Linked DNA regions of Homo sapiens: all the other regions are reported to be linked to region 1. The links are microRNA targets in miRTarBase. Many come from high-throughput screens and were not tested one by one. Region 1 holds a microRNA gene; each other region holds the end of a gene's coding sequence.
What was found. The annotated mature microRNA hsa-miR-3125 reads UAGAGGAAGCUGUGGAGAGA and lies in region 1 at 2,838-2,857, opposite strand. An mRNA with a match to its seed (bases 2 to 7 or 8) in the 3' UTR can be bound and repressed. Matches are read on the target gene's strand: a 7mer-m8 pairs with bases 2 to 8, a 7mer-A1 pairs with bases 2 to 7 and ends in A, and an 8mer does both.

Region 2: miRTarBase lists HDGFL3 as a target of hsa-miR-3125. Seed matches in the 3' UTR shown: 7mer-m8 at 830-836 and 7mer-m8 at 1,101-1,107.
Region 3: miRTarBase lists MID1 as a target of hsa-miR-3125. Seed matches in the 3' UTR shown: 7mer-m8 at 3,549-3,555.
Region 4: miRTarBase lists PRKAR2A as a target of hsa-miR-3125. Seed matches in the 3' UTR shown: 7mer-m8 at 1,132-1,138 and 7mer-m8 at 3,417-3,423.

Annotation. Positions count from the first base shown.
Region 1 is chr2:12,736,233-12,740,232 of GRCh38, reverse strand. It overlaps MIR3125 (microRNA 3125), which reads right to left and starts at 2,866; the gene lies at 2,789-2,866. All of the region lies in intron 2 of TRIB2 (tribbles pseudokinase 2), which reads right to left.
Region 2 is chr15:83,135,956-83,139,955 of GRCh38, reverse strand. It overlaps HDGFL3 (HDGF like 3), which reads left to right. Exons shown (of 6, transcript NM_016073.4): 6 at 681-4,000. The coding sequence ends at 686. TM6SF1 (transmembrane 6 superfamily member 1) reads right to left here. Exons shown (of 10, transcript NM_023003.5): 10 at 2,548-3,475. The coding sequence ends at 3,284. Among named protein-coding and RNA genes, the nearest start is that of TM6SF1, 30 kb to the right of the region's middle.
Region 3 is chrX:10,445,666-10,449,665 of GRCh38, forward strand. It overlaps MID1 (midline 1), which reads right to left. Exons shown (of 10, transcript NM_000381.4): 10 at 1-4,000. The coding sequence ends at 3,703. Among named protein-coding and RNA genes, the nearest start is that of MID1, 170 kb to the right of the region's middle. RefSeq lists an enhancer at 3,274-4,000.
Region 4 is chr3:48,748,385-48,752,384 of GRCh38, reverse strand. PRKAR2A (protein kinase cAMP-dependent type II regulatory subunit alpha) reads left to right here. Exons shown (of 11, transcript NM_004157.4): 10 at 68-209; 11 at 667-4,000. The coding sequence ends at 800. Among named protein-coding and RNA genes, the nearest start is that of IP6K2, 33 kb to the right of the region's middle.

The DNA of each region.
Region 1 (4,000 bases):
ACTCCTCATTCACATTCATTCATTCACGCATTCATCTGACCAGCCAAACATTACTCACTGAGCACCTTCTAGCTGCCAGCTACTATTCCAGGGCTGAGGACACCCACATGGGTGAACAAGACTGACAAGGTCTTTTCATGCAGCTGATAATCCACTGGGGAGCTCAAACCTTGAGCACCTTAGCGAACCATGAATCACATCATCATCACCCCTGCGATGAGGGAACAAGAGATTAACTAGCTTTCTCAAAGTCACATTTGCATAATGATAGGGCACCACAGAATTCAAACCGAGACCTAACCAACCAGGAAGCCCACAGCTTTGTCTACAACTTTTGGCAGACGTGTAACTAACATGACAGACCACAGTCCACAAAGACCTTTCACCTTACTTGCATTTTGGCCTCACTACAGCCCTTTGTATTAGACACGTAGGATATTAACATCCCATTTTACAGATGAGAATATCGAGACTCAGAGAGTTCGGGTAACTTCCCCAAACCTGTTAGCTGGGAAATGGAGAAGACTTGATCCCACATCTTCCTAAGTTGATGCTGCTGCTCTTTCTGCTATACCAGGTGCCTCTCTTTAGGACCAGGCAGGAAGCAGGGAATGTTCAAGCAGGAGTGGACTCCTATCACCTGGTCCTTCTGAGGCTGACACCCTCGTATCAAGACCATCTTCTTTCCCTGGTCAGGCCCAGTGTCTCAAACCTGTAATCCCAACACTTTGGGAGGCCAAGGCGGGTGAGTTCAAGACCAGCCTGGCCAACATGGTGAAACCTCATCTCTACTAAAAATACGATAATTAGCAGAGCGTGGTGGTGCACACCTGTAATCCCAGATGCTCAGGAGGCCGAGGCAGGAGAATCGTTTGAACCCGGGAGGCGGAGGTTACAGTGAGCTGAGATCGCACTACTGCATTCCAGCCTGGGTGACAGAGTGAGACTCTGTCTCAAAAAAGAAAAACAAAACCATCTTCTTTCCCCAGATTTCCTGCCGCCTTTGTCTTCTGTCCTGCCCCTCATACTCCCAAGGCCTTGTCCTTGACCAGGTTCTAACATCTGATGAAGGTCACCCACATCTTCTGTCTGTGCACATCTGTGATTCCAATTTCCCACGTGTCTGCGTGCATAGGGTGTGTGTGAACAGAACCATGAGCCCAAGATCCTTTTCAAACTAGGCATCCTACCCCCAGTCTTTCCCTCCCATTTAAGGTCCATCATGGTTGCTGACAGGAAAGTAGGACTCTCCAGGGTATGCTCAAGAAAAGAGGTAAGAAATCCTGCATTAAACTGCCTGGAACCCAGCATGCATCCTTACACAGTAAGATCTGATGTCATCATTGTGTATGACATAAATTAAGTGCTCAGGAAATACTTTTGGAAGTGAGTTGAATTCTTATCATTAACTATACCTAATCTACTGTGAGGGCCAGGATGCGCGGTGACTTGTTCAAGGCTATGGTGAAAGTCACTGAGAGCTTCCTCCACCCAGCGCCCCAAGCTCCTAGACCAGCCTCCTCTCCTTAGCTCAGGGGCCTCCTAAGAATTCCTGTTTTCCTGCCCTACTGTTCTTTGAGTGGAAAGTTAGGAATTGCTACCTTCCCGTGCTCAAAATTGAAATCTTCCTCTGACTCTCCTGGCTAGGGCACTGCCTCAGAGAGTTGTAGGTAGTCCTTGGGTCTCAAAAGCTCAGTTAATCTATCCCATCATCACACCCCTGGAGGCTTGCAGAGAAGGTGAGGAGGGATGGGGAGGAGTTGGAGTTAGGATTAAGACAGCATCCACAAGGGCTGTCTCACTCACATCACGTATTTCCTTCATCTCAAAAGCACACATGCAAGCGCACGTGCAAGCATCTGCCCTGTTTGCCCCGAAGTGCAAAAAAAGCTCAAGTAAGCATTGAATAAGAAAGAGCTTGGAAAAACCACATTGGGTCATAAGTCAGAGCTTGTGACTCAAGTCCATCTCCTGCTGTTTCTCTTCCTCCGTCTGCCTGAAGGTCTTAGCCTTTCAGCGTGATCACCACCGCCACTAAGAGCCATAGAAGCGGGGCAAGGTTCAAATTAACCAAAAGATTGCTGCTGGGAGTTCTCTACAGCAAAAGGTTTAGTGAAATCCTGGGTTGACTCTAATGCCTCATATTTGGATTACAGGAGTTCAAAGCTCAAGGAGTGACTACTTTCCGTATTAATTTCCACCAACGAACAAACAATAGTTGTGGTCGTGGGAAAAGGCACTGGGCTAAGAGCTAGGAAGGCAGTTTCCAGGCTAGGCTCTGTCTCTCACCTGCTGTGTGGCTATGGCTGAGTCACTCAACTTCTCTGTTTTTCAGACCTAAAGAGGAGCACTAGACAAGGAAGTCTTTAAAAAAAAAATTATGTAGTAAAATAGACACAACATAACATGTACCATCTTAAACCATTTTTAAGTGTACTTCATTGGCATTAAGTACATTTACACTGTCATGCAAACATCTGGACAAGGCAGTCTTAAAGTCTCTGCCAGTTTTATCATTCTGGGATTCTGTAATACCCATCTCTCCCTTTTTTGTGTGCTCACTCACATTCTATTATAATCTATAGAATACATAGTCTTCTGCGCCTATAGCTAATGTTCTACAAAAACAGGAAGGATCTACATGTGCTAATCTGGAATGGAGCTGATTAAAAACAAATCTCTTTTGTCCTTTTGCGTTTCCTAATCTAAGGTGGCAGGTGGAGCTGGCCCACGAGACTTACTAGCTGTCGAGATGTGACGGAGGTGAAAAGGTGAAACCCAAGGGGCAGAGGAAAGGAGGAGGAAGGCGGGGATCTCGAACCACAGGCACCGTGAGTTCTCTCCACAGCTTCCTCTACCCATTCTCACCCAGCGCAAGCCAGACTCCTCATCTCCAATTTCACTGTTTTAGCAGAATAGCTATGGAAAGAATTACAACTGTGGAAATAATAGTAAGAAGAAAAACAAGCTCTCCCATCTGTGGGACAAGGGGCGGTCCAGTGGAACAAGCATGGATCTTGGTATCAAAGGGCCCAGGTTTTGCCCAGGTTCGTCTGCCCCAAACCTGCAGTGGTGATGCAGCTCATCCAGGTGGAGGCCTAGGGCTTGGTCACGGCTGCAGGGTGACCCCCAGGGACTCTCGACCATCTCTTGGGCCACACTCCCTCTCTCTCCATCCCAGCCTGTTTGCTGTTCCTCACATGCCCAGCTTGGCCCCAGTCCTTCTGAGGCCTTTGCCACAGTGTCCCCTTGCCCTAATTGTGCTTCCCCAACTGTGTGACAGCTCACTTTTGTCTTGCCTCTGCTCGAATGAAGGTTATTAAACTTGATCCTGTCCATCCTACATTACGGAGCACGCCCTCCTCCTCTTTTCAGCATGGGAGATATCGTACATTTACATTTCATGATTTACTATGTATCATTATGGTGATCATTTTGGGATGATCACCTCACTTCCCACCTCCAAGAGCCCATGGGCATGTGGTTGATGTCATTTTGTACGCAGAGAACAACACTTAAGTTTGCTGCTGTACCTTGAGTACCTAGACGAGTACCTGGCACAGGGCAGATACACAATCCATCAATGACAGGGACTGTCCTGCTGTCGACCCCAGGGGGTGAGCTTCAGTGCGCTCACCGGCAAAGGAACAAGGGCCGGTGCTCTGCCTACCTGGCCAGGGTTTAGTGGCAGTCAATGAGAGCTCTACAGAGGATGGGCTTTGTAAATGACAGCATCAAGGAATCTCCCATAGTGATAAGGGGGTGGGGATATCAGGCATCTGTCAGTAAAGGTGGGAGGGAGATATGACTACAGGGACTTGAATTTCTCCTCGCTCAGTCTTGTCAGGGTGCAGAGCTCACCACCTCAAGCTTTTCGTGCAAGGGACTCTCGACCATCTCCCTCTCCCTCCTTCCCAGCCTGTTTGCTGTTCCTCACATGCCCTGCTTGACCCCAGTCCTTCTGAGGCCTTTGCCACAGTGTCTCCCCACCCGGATTGTG
Region 2 (4,000 bases), not on the chromosome of region 1:
CATCCTTTTGGGGAAATAGAACCAGACACAATTTAAAGTGGGACCCAAATAGAAACATAATTCTTTTATGAAACAAATGTTTTATTTTCTGTTTGTCACACGGATGCCATCTAAATTTTAAAAGAAATCTAGGCTTCCTCTTATTCTTTATGTTTTTTTTAAAAGCAAGAAGTCAGAGACTTTGTACATCATGATTAACTTCTACATTTGTTTGAGCTATGTGTCACAAGTAATTAAGTTATAAATATTCTGAAGATTAATTGGTGCACACTCTAAGTGCTTTTTAAATTTTACACAGCTTACCTTTCTTTCTGAAGAATGTCCTCACAAAGATAGATTATATCAATTTCTCCACTGATGATGTATTCCAGCAATAAACATAGTCCTAGAATTGTAGAATGTGCACTGCTGCACTCTGTCCTAACAGACAGTAGACAAGGTTTATAATTTTTTTCTATGGGACACTAAAAATACCCTAGGATTTCCTTTAACTTTTTGCACTGACAGGTCTAAAGCAAAGCCACAGAAGCTGCTCTTGCTCAGTAAGTATTGTTAATGCTGCAGTGCATATTAAAATTTCAGAAAACCCAATTATGTACTATCTAGGTGTGGATAGCTCTCATTGTTAGTATCCTAAATCATCTAAAGGCTTGTTTTCTTTCTTTTTTTTTTTTTTACAGACCTAACTACCATAATGAATGCTGCATATTAAGAGAAACCACAAGAAGGTTATATGTTTGGTTGTCTAATATTCTTGGATTTGATATGAACCAACACATAGTCCTTGTTGTCATTGACAGAACCCCAGTTTGTATGTACATTATTCATATTCCTCTCTGTTGTGTTTCGGGGGGAAAAGACATTTTAGCCTTTTTTAAAAGTTACTGATTTAATTTCATGTTATTTGGTTGCATGAAGTTGCCCTTAACCACTAAGGATTATCAAGATTTTTGCGCAGACTTATACATGTCTAGGATCCTTTTATCAAGGCAGTTATGATCATCGTTTTCCTGCCTTGACCCCACCATCATCAAACACTCAGTTAAATATAAATTAACATTTTTTAGATGACCACTCAACATAATGCTTAAGAATGGAATTTCCTCTCTGTGACAGAACCCAGGAATTAATTCCTAAATACATAACGTTGGTATATTGAAGACGAAATTAAAATTGTCCTTCAGTTTTGAGGCCATGTGTAAAGTTTAACCATATTGTAAAATATCTATTCCGTATTAGAAATAGCTAGTTGACAGCTTATACTTCTCAAAATTCATATTGTTATGTACACAAACTAAGTTTCTATATGTGAAGTTAGTGAGTCTTTTTGTGTTACTCCAAAATAAAGGCAATGATTTATTTTTTTCCCAGTGCCAATACAATTTTGAGCTAAGCACTCAAGGTGGATACTTTACATTTTAAAGCTGGAATCAGCAACAGCCCTATGGGAAACCAGACAAAGCATTGACTTTTAAATGTAGACTTTTAAAATAAACTGTTTTCTTTTGGAACTACAATTAGAATAGTTAATATTCATCCTTAAACCATTATTATGTGTACATTATTGTTGCTATTGTGATAATAGAGAATTTTATTTATTTTTATGCCAGCTTATATTGTGAGAACACATTTAGTCAGTTTGGGTTTTATCAATCCTGTTAATGCTTGTCCTTGGAACATCTTTCGCGTATTCACGGTTTGTAGTTGAAAAGTTTACTGTAAAAAAATCAAAAACAAAAAAATGTATTGTTTTTACAGAATAAATTTATTGGAATGTGTACTGGGAGTAAGATTTGAGGTTGTAAGCAAACTAAGTTAGTGTAATTTGGCTTCATATATGTAACGTGAGGTATTAATGTAATTCATATATTAAAGCAAAAATTGTTCACAGCAAGCTGACAATAGAATCAAGTGCAGGTGAGGGTTTTTCTTTTTCTTTCTTTTTTTTTTTTTAAACACTCTCTGGGTTTTAGATTATTTGAAAACACTGTAGGGGATGATGGGGAGATGACTACATGATTTGCTTACACTTACATATTTACCAGCCCAGTGGACCCTAGATTTTGTAATTTGATATTATCCATGCATTGATTTGTATCCCATTTTCTTTTGGTTTTCTTGATGAGAGCTAATAAAAACATGAGAAAATGTGAGCAGACCTAAAAGCCTAGGGCCGTTAATAATGATGATGGTGATGATGGCAGCTAAGGGTATGAAAGCACCAGTCCATTTATCATTCCAGGGCACAGTGAGGAGGTGGCTGTTTGTATTTTTGGTGTGTTTCTTTCATTTAGTGAATACTGATTTTCTCTAGTATACTCAACATACAATCCCAAACATGAAAAGTTCATAAAAAGATAGTAGGGATGTCGATCTAATACTTCTTCCTTAAAAGGTCCTTTTTAATTTTGAATATTTGAATGTATTTTTTAATTAATGAAATTTAATTCATCAAAAGACCTCTTCATTGCTCACACTGAAACATAAGGGGAATGTAGATGGCATTTTGAATTGGAATATACAACTCACAAATTTTCTTTAAAAGCGTTTTATGTGTATATATGAAATGTTTCAAATTTAATAAGATTTGTCTTTATAAGAGGCCAAAAATAATTTTATTAAAAATATACACAGAAATACAATAGAAATATTTCCAGCCACCAATAAAACAAATGTTCATTAAGGATAGAGATAAAGTTACTGATCCCTATTTAGCTGTTTAAATTCACACAAAAAAATTTAGTAAAAGTAATTTTCTTGAAACAGCAGCAAATAATAAACTTTCCTTGGGAAAACATTTTTCAAACAACATTTAAAAATATTCTGATGATTTGCCTTTTATATTGAGTTTAATAATGAAGCATATTCATCTTATTTGCAAAAGTTACTCCTCCAGTCTGCATTCACTGTTTTGAATTTTTTAATATGCACAGGCCATATTCTCTTTTGAATAGTTTCATTTCATGCTCACTACTGTTGGCACTAAATTGTAATTTTTTACACTTATAATTATTTTATATGTCAAACAATATTGAGATGGATGATCAAGTTTATTCACAAATGATTTTGAATATATTTCTTTAAACAAACTGTTTCTCAAGAATTTCCATTTTCCTTCAAAAAAAATTTACACAATACCATATAGCTCACACATACAGTGCAGAGCAAGAATGTACATATTCTTAAGTACTCACGTATGAGAAGAGAGTGAAATGGGACAAAATATCAGTACCAGTATAACAAAAGTTAGTAATTTAGAAAGGAGGAACATGAAGTAATATTTTTATTCCACTTTTTCTTCTGCCTTTGTTTTTATGAAGAACTCTGGTTTGTAGATACAACGATAGGCCAAGAGCTGAGGAAGAACTCCATATGCTATGTTTAATGCTAAAAAAAGGATTTTTGCTTCTTCAGGGACTCTGTAGACATAAGCAGTTCTAGCATGAAGAGATGCACCAATGTGAGAAAACTGAGCCTGTTGCATTTAAAAAAAAAAAATTGAGTAAGCATGAAACGTGTTCAGTTGGATGCATGATGAGTTCTGAATGGTTCATTCAGGCTACGTTTCTGTGCCCTCAAAACCAGTCTCACCTGCAGGCAAAATACCTTCAAACAATCCAGAGTCTTTAATGTCAGAGTCTTTCATTAAATTTAGTCCTTGATTAAATTTAGGGCCATTCTTGATATGACTGTTCAAATAAAGTAGATATTATTTAGTGTAGTTTTATCATGCCAGTTGTGTTTTTTAACCATCAAGTGCCCCTTACCGAACATTAGTGGCTCAATCTAATAGAAAAATCTGAATAAAATCTCAAATTTTTTTCTGATTTGCGTTCTGGAGATCCTGCATACAGACTCAGTTGTGGTTCACAAATTGCGTTCCAATAAAAATGAAGAAAGCGCAGAGTTTTAAAAAACAAATATTTTTAGCATAAACTATTGAAAGGGAAGCACTGGGGGGACCTCAGCTTCATTTATCAGTCTTTCATCTACTCCTTGC
Region 3 (4,000 bases), not on the chromosome of region 1:
GTCCAGGTGCAAGGAGTGACATAAAGAGAATCAATTTTTCATGTCCAAGCCAAGCTGATACAGATGATGATACTTATCAGTGATTCCCATTTACACAGGCTTGGATTGCTTTTCAGATATCAGATTTTTGGAACTATTTTATAAATATTTTTAAAGGTGATGGAGCCACTGGAGTGTAGGTGAATTGGTGCCCCTCCCCTTTTCTTTTTGGGTGTATCAAGCATATAATCAATGACAGGAAAAGTGAAAGGTTTTTATGAGAGTTTTGCATTAAAAGAAAACCAACGATCAAGTTTCTACACTGCAGCACTGTTGATATTTGAGCAAGACAACTCTTCGTGGTCGGGGGCTGCGCTTGCACTGTAGGATGTTTAACGGCGTCCATGACCTCTACGCACTAGATGCTGGTAGCTTCCCTTCCCCGGCTGCGACAACCAAAAGTTGCCATTGCATTGCCAAATGTCTCCTGGGGGGCAAAATCGAGCACTGGTTGAGAAGCGCTGTTTTCAAAAACATCCTCCTGCCCCCATCATTGTCTTGGTGTGCTTTTTACCATTTTATTAAGATAGACCAGATGGTCAACTTCCCAACACCAAATGCACATGTATGCCAGCATATATGCGTGTCTCTTTGCAGGTATCTGCATGTTCCTGGAGCTGAGATGGAATTCCACGGTCACTGGAGGACGTTAGTTCAGTTCCTCAGCAAGTTTAAGGTCAATATATCAGTACCGTAATAAAAAAGCCTGTCTGTATTCAAGCTGTTTCTTTTCCTCCAGCAGAAACCATCGTCAATATTTGCAGTCAGTTTTTGAAGTCACTTTCTTTTAAAGCTGGAAAGAATCTTCACCCAGGCCCACCCTCATCTTAATCCACTATTTAGAGTCCTACTTGAATGATATCGCCAGCAACTTTCAACTTTGGATCCAGATTTCTTTATTTGTATCCACCAGGAAGAGAGGTACCACGTTTCTGAGTTCTTTTATGAGCACTCGCTATGTAATTTGCAAGGCCCAGTGCGAAGTGAAAACGCAGGCCCCTTGTTCAAAAATTGTTAAGAATTTCAAGACATCAACAGCAGAGCATTAAATCAGGCTTAGGGCCCTTCTGAACTCCTGGGCTCTGGGCATACCCATGACACCAGACCTGGCAGTCTTGGTTGGTGCTGCATTGATTTTGTTGTATTAATTTAATTGGCACTGCCATCTCTTTTGCCCCTGTATCGCAGTGTTTCCTGTGGTGAGGACCCCAAATAATAAAATACTGTGACCTCAATCAGTTTAAAGAGAATGCAAAATTACACTGCAGCAAATTTTTACAGCATACATTTTTTAGACTTTCAAAAAAAAAATTCACACGGGAATCTTTTCTACATCATTATAGTAATTAAACACGGTGGCCTTTCACCATATACATATTTTCCTGTAAATATGACAACCTGGAACTAGTAACTGCTACTATCCACAATGCTTTTAAGTTAGCCAAGAGTGAGACTTCCACAACAAAATTATGACATAATCTCTCATGTCCTTATAAAAATAGCCAAACATACCCTAAATGGCTTACTGTGAAAATTTGAGTAGTAACTTCTTAATATTGAAAAACATTATTTTCATGGAAATATTGTCCTTCTACTAAGTGTTTTATGTTAACATCATAAGGCAAACTGTAGCATTTATTGGTACCTGGAGACCGTGATTTTAAAAACTCAGAAGCTGAGTTTTAGACCCTTTTATTTAGAACCTGTTAGTGTACAAAGTGCATTAAAATATCCATTATCCAGTTACCCAAAATGTATGTAAAAATTACTGAGACAACCCTTTCAGTTTACTCAGAGAAGGCAAACACACATTGCTTTTATATTGTAATAAAAAGAAAAACCTATAAGGTTTCCAGAGAAAGATTGTTTTTTTTCCATTGAGGCGTCCATCTTTTAGATGTGAAATTGTCTTAGGTATCTATCAAAATATTCATCTGGGTATAAATAATATAGTAAATATATAGAATCTATCTGTTAAGAAAAAGGAGAGTGTCTGCTAGGGAAGAGGATGGAAGGACCCAGGAAGCTGGCTTGGCCTCCCTTGAAATCCAGATTTGCAATCACATGACCTTTGGCCACGTGATGCTGAAACAATGAGTTCATTGACTTATTTCAGGGAGGCAGTTGGTTGATTTGGTTAAAAACAAAATAACTAAAAACAATGTCTAAATCCACTAGTCTGCTCAGTCAAAATGGCTGACCCAGTATCCCAGGTAAATATTTTAGCAATTGAAACCATTTATAGAGGTCATGCCCTTCATCAAACTAGAACCAATGCCAGAGTTCTGGGCCAAGAACTGCTCAAGAAAGCCTTAATTCATGGACCATTCCAACGCATCAGATTGGCATGCAAAGAATCCCAGCTGACATTTTATAAGCAGGTTCCTGAATAACGAGTTTGAATTTTTTTTTTTTTTTTTTGGTCTTACAACTCTATTGTAAACTATACTAGACTATAGAGGGACTTCTACATCTTTCAAGATGTGTTTAATAAAGGTCTGTTTATAATAACTTTTGAGGCATGAATCTAGCAAATAGTACTTTATACAATGTCCCTTGTCATTACCAACTCATAAATATTAAGTGTTTTTCAGTGACTTATGTTTGGATGTGGTAGTGCTGATCAGGGCCATGTGCTGATGTCCTGGAGAGCAAAATCAATCCAAAGTGGTGCTGCTATTTGTGACAGAACATGTTTATTTACTCAGCCCCGGAGACAAAAGGAAAATTGATATGGGGGAGCGGGAAATAGGAGAACTATTAAATGTAGTGAAGAAATTTCACAGGTCTAAAGGAACTATTAAAAGGAAGGATAAAGTAGATTCTATACTATAAAACAGAATCCTACCTCTGATAAAAGACAAATCAGCCTGAATTTTTGAATAATCAATAGGATTCAAAATGACTATTTTCAATTGCAATCTCATTCTTAATGTTCTTCCAGAACCCTTAACCCTGAGAGAAGCAGGGCAAAATGTGGCCAAAGGATTCAGAACCTTTCTTTCCAACATTATCCCATCAGCTATGAGAAGGTAAAGATTTAGCCACGGCAAGGTCCGAGGTCCAAAATCAACTCTTTTCATTCTCTGTCTTGCTCTCCATTTTAGTTGATCTGATACAACTTTTTGACATCACAATTAAAACACTTCAAATTAAACCAGAGTAAGAAAGCCTGTTTCCTCCCCTACTAGGTTCAAACACATCCTGTTATGCACCATCGAGGTGAGAAGACCTACCATGGGATCATCATGGGATATCAGGTAAGAAGATGAGTAACATACAAAACTACAAAAGTTTTTGTTTTTTTGTAAGCCCACAGATTGTGATGAAATGAAGGTTGTAAATAGCTGATAAACTTATGGGCCTCTTAATGTGCAAAACCAAGTAATTCCTAAAAGTTGTAATCCTGATTATGTTTCTCTTATAAATAATCTATAGATTTTCCTCTAAATACAAAAAAATTAAAGAAATTATTAAAGCCCGTACTTAATACAAGACACAGTAAAAGGAGAGGAATCTCTTGTTTTGAGCCCTATCTGAGCCGATTTCGGGACACTTCTGGTGAGATTTCATTACACTCATGAAGCCTGTGCTTTCTCAGTCCCCTAAATAGTGGCCTGAACCTTACTGTTCCCCAGAAAGCAGCTCCATGTGGCCAGACGCTCACGGCAGCTGCTCTGTGCAGTCCAAATGGTCTGGGATAGGGAGCCCAGTGATAATCGTCAGACACTTGTTCCACACGGTGAAGGTGGGGCAAACAGGCTGCGCAAATGCGACGTCGAAGGTGTAGAGGTGGATGGAGTTCAAAGCATCATAAAAGGCGATAGAGCCGTTATCATAGTCCAGCAGGATGCCCACGCGCCGGAGGTGGGGGGCAGGCTCAATGGGGATTTCCTTGCTATTGTGTCTCACCACCCAGTTATTGTTGCAGCGGCAGAGCGCCCAGGAAGCAGAGTTCTTC
Region 4 (4,000 bases), not on the chromosome of region 1:
TGTGCAACTGGACATGCCCAGCTGTGATCCTGGAGTCAGCCTAGGTCATGTTCTTTGCCTGCTGTAGACTAAATCAAACAAGGATGGTGGGAACCAGGAGGTCGAGATTGCCCGCTGCCATAAGGGGCAGTACTTTGGAGAGCTTGCCCTGGTCACCAACAAACCCAGAGCTGCCTCAGCTTATGCAGTTGGAGATGTCAAATGCTTAGGTAAGAAAAGTTCTTTATGCATTAATATTCTTTTTCTAACATGTAATATTTTTTTCCCATCAGCAAGCCTTGACATATTCTGCCATCTTTTACTGCTGTCTAGGCCTAGGCAGTTTATGTGACCAACCAGAGATGGATGAATGGATGCTTTCAGCAAACATTTCTGAGTACTGATGACAGCCTGTGAGCAAGACAGGCATGCAGGTTCTTTAGCCGTATGAAAAGAACTGATGTCCAGGGCTGTGGGAGAATGGGGAGAACAGGAGCTGCTGGACTCTGTAAAGTCTCTAACCTGGATGACAGTCTTCTGAATTCATATAGAAACATCCCTTTTTGCAAGTGGCTGGTGTCCCAAGGCGTAATCTCATACAACATGAATGGGTATGTTTAGGAAAAGGTTTGCATGAGGGAAATGGCTTGAATTCATTCTCTCCCTCACCTCTTTTTAACAATGCAGTTATGGATGTACAAGCATTCGAGAGGCTTCTGGGGCCCTGCATGGACATCATGAAGAGGAACATCTCACACTATGAGGAACAGCTGGTGAAGATGTTTGGCTCCAGCGTGGATCTGGGCAACCTCGGGCAGTAGGTGTGCCACACCCCAGAGCCTTCTTAGTGTGACACCAAAACCTTCTGGTCAGCCACAGAACACATACAGAAAACAGACATGACAGAACTGTTCCTGCCGTTGCCGCCACTGCTGCCATTGCTGTGGTTATGGGCATTTAGAAAACTTGAAAGTCAGCACTAAAGGATGGGCAGAGGTTCAACCCACACCTCCACTTTGCTTCTGAAGGCCCATTCATTAGACCACTTGTAAAGATTACTCCAACCCAGTTTTTATATCTTTGGTTCAAAACGGCATGTCTCTCCAACAATTTAAGTGCCTGATACAAAGTCCAAAGTATAAACATGCTCCTTTCCTCTCTTGCTGCTACTCTTGCTTTTGGAAGTTACCACAGGGTCTGCAGAAACCTGTTGTATAACTGTAGACACTCTCTAATGGTTCTCAAAGGAGGAAATGTAGCCTTCAGTCTCCTCATTTGTCCTTTGAGGAAGTCCACATTTGTTCACAGTTGCAGCCTTTGGTTTTACAGTGGGAAATGGTGGTGGATGATATGGACATATGTAGCCCAGTGGCATTGTACTTTCTGCTGACAGCTGCACACATTACAGCTGTCTCCAAACCCACAGTGATGCTTAGGGAAAGACCCTGCTCAGGACCCAGCAGGTCAGCACCCCAGAGCAGACTGATAGGTCCGTGGGACCCATGTTAGAGCAGAAAATTTGGGCTCAGCACATTTTACTGTTAGTAGAGAGCCAGGAAACGTTTTCTGGGTTGGGGATTTTGTGGGATTTTTTAATTTTTTTAGTAGGTTTTGTTTAACCTCTGTGCAGTTTGTATGAATGAATTGCTATACATTTATAAGGAGCCAGGGTCTGGAGGGTTGCTATCACTTTGTCCAGCCCAAATACCTTCCTGGGCAACTCCTACCATTTGTTTGCAGTTGCCTCTACTAGCTGATGGCAGTATGCTGGAAAGAGGTTGTACTATAAAGAGAGTTCTTTCCTTCTACTCCAGAGTTGTTGTGTAGCTTTGCCATTGAACCGATCAATTTTTAAACTCTTTAAAGAAGCAGCAGCTATTTTTTTGAAATTAAAGAAAATTCTCAGGCCAGGCTCAATGGCTCATGCCTATAATTGTAGTGCTTTGGGAGGCTGAGCTGGGAGGATCGCTTAAGACCAGCCTAGGCAACAGAGTGAGATCCTGTCTCTACAAAAACAAAAATTTTTTTTTTGTTTTCTTTTTGAGACGGAGTTTCGCTCTTGTTGCCCAGGCTGGAGTGCAATGGTGCGGTCTTGGCTCACCGCAACCTCCGCCTCCCAGATTAAAGTGATTCTCCTGCCTCAACCTCCTGAGTAGCTGGGATTACAGGCATGCGCCACCATGCCGGGCGAATTTTGTATTTTTAATAGAGACAGGGTTTCTCTGTGTTGGTCAGGCTGGTCTCAAACTCCCAACCTCAGGTGATCCGCCCACCTCAGCCTCTCAGAGTGCTGGGATTACAGATGTGAGCCACTGCACCTGGCAAAAAAAAAATTTTTTTTTAATTTGTCAGGTGTGGTGATGCATGCATGTAGTCCCAAATACTTAGGAGGCTGAGGTGGAAGGATCACTTGAGCCCAGGAGGTCAAGGCAACAGTGAGCTGTGATCATGCCACTGCACTCCAGTCTGGGTGACACAGTGAGACCCTGTCTCTTAAAAAAAAAAAAAGAAAGAAAAAAAATTATTCTTTAGGTAATTTCACTTGGACATATTCATGTATATGGAGTTTGTCAGCTGACTCAGGCATTTACCCTAAAGATCAAATCTGTTTTCAAAAATTGGCATTGGCCAGGCACGGTGACCCACACCTGTAATCCCAGCACTTTGGGAGGCCGAGGCGGGCGGATCACGAGGTCAGGGGTTCAAGACCAGCCTGGCCAACATAGTGAAACCCCGTCTCTACTAAAAATACAAAAAATTAGCTGGGCATGGTGGTGGGCGCCTGTAATCCCAGCTACTTGAGAGGCTCAGGCAGGAGAATCGCTTGAACCTGGGAGTGGAGGTTGCAGTGAGCCGAGATTGCACCATTGTATTCCACCCCGGGTGACAGTGCAAGACTCCATCTCAAAAAAAAAAAAAAAATTTGGCATCATTTACAATTTCATAGAATTACTGTGAAGGCCTTTCTAGTTGAGATGTTGGGGTATTTGGGATTCTAATTGTTAACCCCAGAAGAAGGTAATTTAGCTTGTATTTATTTAAAACCCATTTAGCCTTTTACTTATATCTGGTAGAATTCCAGTGATCATCCTAATAAGGTATATTTCAGAATAATTTTTTTTTCCTTCAGAATAACTTAGAATCAGATGCTATAAGGGCTCCTAGGAGCAGTGTGAAATTTCCGTAAAGATAAATTTGAATGTTGTAACCAAGTTTATATTAAACCAAGAGGCCATTTCCAATATGATTTTTTGTTTCTTTTTAACTTGTTAAGTCCCTAAGAGATTACATGCTAGGGCTTGAGTCATTTCTATTGTAGATAATGATGGCCCACACAGTCACCTTCAACTATCCACATAAGCTAGGCTTTCCGCTTTTGCCACGGACAGTGTGACCAAGATATTTCCAGAGTAAATAACCCACCACAACCTTGGTAATTCCTCTTTTCTTCTTAAGCTCCAGGAAGCGAAAGCAGAAGGACTCTTTTCAGACTGCCCTCTGTAGCCTACATTGCAGCTTTCCAAAACAGGCAGCTAGCACTGGGAAAGCCCATGTGGTGACCCCATATTTTTCTGAGGTTCTTCTTTTCCATGGTGTTACTTTATTATCAGAAAGTAAATTCAGAAAACAGGTCTTGCCCTTAGCAGACAAGAACCACACCAGTTTCTTGTAAAGGTAACGGATACATTGGGATTCAGGAGTGACACAGAGGTCCAGCCCCAGAACTTGTAAGGATTTTGTTTGAACACTGAGCAGATGCCTCCTCCCTGCCACCCATCACACTAGTTAGGGCTGGCCATGAATTCTATGCCAGAGTCACTCCTGCAGTCTGCTAGGGATGGGCCTTCTTATCCCACTCTCGCACACATCCCAGTCTAGTCTTTGCCTTCACAGAGTCCTCCTTGACACCCCTGACTTAATGATAGTTGCTGTTTTGGAGTAGAATTGATCAGGTTTAAGTCATCCTGCTCAGGTTGGGCATAGTGGCTCATGCCTGTAATCTCAGCACTTTGGGAAGCCA